Linked DNA regions of Homo sapiens: region 1 is linked to region 2. Evidence: fine-mapped expression QTL. Tissue or cell type: thyroid. Region 2 holds a variant in brackets; the other region holds the start of a gene. All regions are shown on one strand. Distances are between the middles of the regions. Region 1 holds the start of SNHG27 (small nucleolar RNA host gene 27). Region 2 overlaps LINC02377 (long intergenic non-protein coding RNA 2377).

The links. PIP is the estimated chance that this variant, and not a neighbour inherited with it, causes the effect.
Region 1: it holds the start of SNHG27, and the variant in region 2 is the best candidate, but not a certain one, in a credible set for the expression of SNHG27 in thyroid (GTEx, PIP 0.78).

The regions. Positions count from the first base shown.
Region 1 is chr4:131,763,678-131,766,589 of GRCh38, reverse strand. SNHG27 (small nucleolar RNA host gene 27) reads right to left here and starts at 1,752. Exons shown (of 3, transcript NR_125884.1): 1 at 1,523-1,752.
Region 2 is chr4:131,698,149-131,701,060 of GRCh38, reverse strand. The region is part of intron 4 of LINC02377 (long intergenic non-protein coding RNA 2377); the gene reads right to left. Among named protein-coding and RNA genes, the nearest start is that of SNHG27, 65 kb to the left of the region's middle. The variant G/A (reference allele first, on the strand shown) is at 1,611.

The sequences.
Region 1 (2,912 bases), 66 kb before region 2:
TTGCCCGTACAGTCTAGTTAGATTCATAGTTGCAATGTTTCATGTGGTATATTTGCTCCCTATGGAATAGAACATAACATTAATCTCTAGATGTGTCACTAGAGAGATTTGTATATATCCACAAAAATCTACAGTTGCAACAAGAAAAATTATCCAGTGAAAATTTTGTGATATGAATGTCTTTCAACTTTTTAAAAAGTAAAGAGAAAATGATGAACAAATATGAGTTGGAAATCAGAATGAACAAATCGTGAAAATATAGTGTACCCCTTCAAAAAGTTTGAAAATTAAGAGAAATTGGTAGAACAGCTGTATTATCATTTACAAAAATGTTTCTCTACCTATAGAACAAACAATTACTTTGTCCTCTAATTTTCAAATAACTTACAGAACATTTATTTCCTACTGTCATTGGAATGGCAGGCTAGCAGGCTGAGTTCATAGCCCAATTGGTTCCTCACATCAAAAGATTCCCTTTATTATTTCCTTATTTTCTCTTTAATTCTGGCACTCCTTCATGATTGAACTTACAGATGTTCTTTTGTCTGCTAATCTTCGAGTAAGCCTGTGCTCTCTATAACTTTCAGTCTCAATTTCCTTCTACCATCAGCCTTTTGTCTAAACATTCTTATTCTGGTTTGTTTCCCTGAACTCTTGACATCAATCTCTGTTCCTTCAATATTATGTTTCTTCTACTGGAAGCAACAGATTTCCCAGATTTCACCCATTTTCCATTTTACTCTTCTCAATCTCTGTGTCTGAGTTAATTGCTTCCTTAGGTTTCTATGTAGGATTGTCTCTCCATCAGTAACTTTCCTATATCGCCCATGTTAACGTACCTATATCGTTTACTGAAAAATTTCTCCTTTAAAAAAAAATCAATGTGTTTGTTTACTTTCTTAAAATGCCCTCTTAAACTGCAAGGTCAAAGAAGGTAAGTATGATATTCGGATATTATATATCTACCACTTAATACAGAAAATATTCCAGCACTTGTATAGGTAGTATAAGACATAATTTTAGAACTCTAAAATAAAAACTCACAAATTGAAGTTAAATATCCATTTCCCACTGTTATCTCCTTTTCCTTTTAACACACTGATATCATTTGGATCTGTGTCCCCACCCAAATCTCAAGTCAAACTATAAGTCCCACTGTTGGAGGTGGGGCGTGTTGGGAGGCAATTGGATCATCTAGCGGTTTCTCTTAAATGGTTTAGCACCATCTCCTTGGTGCTGTTCTTGCGATAGTGAGTGAGTTATTGTGAGTCTGGTTGTTAAAAGTGTATAGCACCTCCCCACTTCTCACTCTTCTTCCTGCTTCCAGCCATGTGAAGTGCTGGCTCCCCCGTCACCTTCTGCCATGATTGTAAGCTTACTGAGGCCCACACCCAGGCAGCCCCAGAACCTGCTGGGTTCTGCTCTCTGCGACTACCAAGCCACCGGTGAAGAGAGCAGCCCACGGACACACAGGCAGACCTGTCCTCGACATCCCAAGAGCGCCACTTTTGGGGAGACTCACCCGCACACTGTCCGCGCACGCCTGAGGCTGGGATCCCGCGCTGTCTCCCCGGAGATCTGTCTGAGGTTTCTTCCTCCTGATGGACCCTCCGCGAATCCCGGCCTCCGGAGACCTTCCTGTTAACTGCCCTGGCCAGGACTGGTCTCAGCCCCGACTCTGACCAAGCTCACACAGGGTGCCTGCTTAGCCAAGTCTCAAGGACCCATCCCCGGGCAACGGTGGCGGTCACTGTGACCACAGCGGCGGCTCGGGCCTCGCGCATGCTCACTGGCGAGGCCGACTCACCCGCCCCACGCCCCCTTACTCCGCAGAGTCAGGCTGCAGACCCTTTAAAAAATGGCGGCGACATGGCGGCTGCGGGGACTGGGGTGGCGGTGCTGGAGGTTGCGGCGGGGACTGCGGCGCAGCCCGAGGCAGAGGGTGGGAAGAGGACTACCAGAGGGGCCTGCGGGAGACTCAGGGTCGGACCCATAGGAGTCCTGTCGTCAGGACCTCCTTGATCGGTCTCCTGCTTCTGTTCCCGGTGAAGGAGGACCTTCGGGGTGCTGGCTGGGCTGCGCGGACACCTCTTGGGATCCGATGATGGCTCCCACCGGCTGATCGGGAATGGGGTTACAATGCAGTGAGGCGGAAAGGGTCTCGCCGGGGCACGGAAAGATCCCCAAGGCCGCAAGGCGTGCTGTCGTCTGCAACGGCACTGACCCATGAGCCCACTGCCTCCCTCCTTCCTGGGTGGAGCAGGGGCCTGCCTTCATCTCCAAGGCCCGGGGGCTCCGGCATCCCGACGCAGCTTCCGGCGACATCGGCAAAGACAGAGGCGAGTCCGAGCTGGAGCCCGTGTGACCAAACGTGGCACTGACGTCCCCCAAGAGCACATGCAGAGAGCGTGTGTCTTTGAGGCCGTAGGGGGCGACGACGAGACGGACAGTGATGTCCAGGCGTGCGCCCGGGGGCCACTGGAGACCTGCCCCACAAAGCAGAGGAAAAGCCAAGCGCACCTGCAAACCTGCGAGACAGGGCCTGTGCGCGAGTCCAGGCCACATTCAGGGAGGCCCGCCAGAGGAGCCCAGAGCTTTGGACCAAGTACACCCCACCCCCACGCCGCTACCGCTTAGGTACCCCTGACGCAACCTCCCCTGCACCCAGCCAAAACCCAGTCCCGTTGGCTCCCTGACATCCGTGGCAGCCAAAAGATTCAGTGCCAGAAGGCGCTTTCCCCAGGAGCGGAGGGACCGGTTGGCCCTCAAGGATCAGACAGGAAGTGCAGGTGGGATGCAACACCGCCTTTCCTGGAAGGCCAATGTGGGGAACGGTGGGCTTGCCTCCCCCTCTTCCTGGACCGAGCGCGCAGCCATCACTTGGGCCATGGAGACCAAGAGAGCTTCCCTGT
Region 2 (2,912 bases):
ACTGGGCAGGGTCTCCCGACCTGGGCCCCAGCACAGCTACCCTGCTCCCACTTGAACATTTCAGACAGTGGCATCTGTGCATTTCTCTGGGATAGAATTCCCAGCGACAACCCACAGCCCCTCTGCCATTACATACAGTGGTACCACCCTTGCTGCCTGATATGGTTTGGCTCTATGTCCCCATTCAAATCTCATCCTGTAGATCCCACAATTCCCATGTTTTGTGGGAGGTACCTGGTGGGAAATGACTGAATAATGGGGATGGGTATTTCCCATGCTGTTCTCGTAATAGTGGATGGGTCTCACCAGATCTAATGATTTTAAAAACAGGAGTTTCCTGACACAAGCTCTCTCTTAGCCTGCTGCCATCCATGTAAGATGTGACTTGCTCCTACTTACCTTTCACCATGATTTTGAGGCCTCCCCAGCCACGTGGAACTGTAAGTTGATTAAACCTCCTTCTTTTGTAAATTGCCCAGTCTCAGGTCTGTCTTTATCAGCAGCATGAATATGGAATAATATAGTAAATTGGTACGAGTAGAGTGGGCTCTACTGAAAAGTGCCTGAAAATGTGGAAGCAACTTTAGAACTGGGTAACAGGCAGAGGTTGAAACAGCTTGGAGCACTCAGAAGAAGACAGGAAAATGTGGCAAAGTTTAGAACCACCTAGAGACTTGTTGAATGGCTTTGCCTAAAATGATGATAATGATACAGACAATGAAATCCAGGATGAGGTGGTCTCCAATGGAGATGAGGATCTTGGGGACTAGAACAAAGGTGACTTTTGTTATGTTTTAGCAAAGAGACTGGTGGCATTTTGCTCCAGGCCTAGAGATTTGTGGGACTTTGAACTTGAGAAAGATGATATAGGGTATCTCATGGAAGAAATTTCTAAGCAGCAAAGCATTCAAGATGTGATGTGGGTGCTGTTAAAGTCACTCAGTTTTATAAAGGAAGTAGAGCATAAAAGTTCAAAAAGTTTGCGGCTTGAAAATGTGATAGAAAAGAAAATCCCATTTTCTGAGGAGAAATTTAAGTCAGCTGCAGAAATTTGCATAAGTAATGAGGAGATGAATGTTAATCCCCAAGACAATAGGGAAAATGTCTCTAAGGCATGCCAGAGGTCTTCATGGCAGCCCCTTCCATCACAGGCCTGGTGACCTAGGAGAAAAAAAGTGGTTTTGTGGGCCAGGCCCAAGGTCATCATGCTGTGAGCAGCCTAGGGACTTGGCACCCTGCGTCCCAGCTGCTCCAGCCATGGCTGAAAGGGGCCAATGTAGACTTTAGGCTGTGGCTTCAGAGGGTACAAGCCCCAAGCCTTGGCAGCTTCCACTTGATGTTGAGCCTGTGAGTGCACAGAAGTCAAAAATGGGGGTTTGGGAATCTCTGCCTAGATTTCAGATGTATGGAAATGCCTGGATGTCCAGGAATAAGTTCACTGCAAGGGTGAGGCCCTCATAAAGAACCACTGTTTAGGGCAGTGTGGAAGGGAAATGTGGGGTTGGAGTCCCCACACAGAGTCCCTACTGGGGCACTGCCTAATGAGGCTGTGAGAAGAGGGCCACCGTCCTCCAGACCCCAGAATGGTAAATCCACTGACAGCTTGCACC[G/A]TGCACCTAGAGAAGACTAAGACACTGAATGTCACCCTGTGAAAGTAGCCATGAGGGAGGCTGTACCCTACACAGCCACGGGTGGGGAGCTACTCAAGACCTTGGGAACCCACCTCTTGCATTAGCATGACCTGGATGTGAGACATAGAGTTACTGGGAGATCATTTTGGATCTTTAAAATTTGACTGTCCCTCTGGATTTCACACTTGCATGGGGCGTGTAGCCCTGTTGTTTGGCCAATTTCTCCCATTTGGAATGGCTGTATTTACCCAATGCCTGTACCCCCATTGTATCTAGGAAGTAACTAACTTACTTTTGATTTTACAGGCTCATAAGTGGAAGGGACTTGACTTGTCTCAGATGAGACTTTGGACTGTGGACTTTTGAGTTAATGCTGAAATTAGTTAAGGCTTTGTGGGACTGTTGGGAAGGCATGATTGGTTTTGAAATGTGAAGATATGAGATTTGGGAGGGGCCAGGGGTATAATAATATGGTTTGACTCTGTGTCCCCACCCAAGTATCATCTTGTAGTTCCCATAATTTCTACATGTTGTGGGAGGGACCCAGTGGGAAATGATTGAATCATGAGAGTGAGTCTTCCCCATGCTGTTCTCATGATAGTGAATGGGTCTCATGAAATTCGATGGCTTTAAAAATGGGAGTTTCCCCAAACGAGGTCTCTCTTTGGCTGCAGTCATCCATGTAAGATGTGACTTGCTCCTCTTCTTGACTTCTGCCATGAGTTTGAGGCCTCCCCAGCCATGTAGAACTACAAATTGATTAAACCTCTTTCTTTTTTAAATTGTCCAGTGTCAGGTATGTCTTTGTCAGCAGTGTAAAAAAGGACTAAGAAACTGCCCTTGGGCTGGGGAAAGAACAAAATCCTGGTTGCTTCACTAGCACCTTCATCATGACACAGCTGCCATATAGCATAGAACCCAGTCTCTCTTCCTTGTGAGCTCCCAACTCCTATCCTTCACTAAGCAGAACTCCTTGCTTGGGCCTGCAGAGTAGCTACCTCACCCAAGCTGAACATTTCTATTGCCAGTGGCTCTGTGTTATCCTGTGATGGAGCTCCCAGAGGCAAATGACAGCCAACTGCCACTGCCCATGCAGTGGTACCTGCCCTTGCTGTCTTAGACTGGGAAAGAAATAAAAGAGCCTGAATGCTTTACTCATGCTTCCAGCACACTATGATTACCATATGATCACCATATGGCATGGAGCCCAATCTCTATTCTCTGTGAGCACTTGATCCCGTGCTCTTCACCAGGCAGGGGCCCCAGCAAAGGCTCATAGTG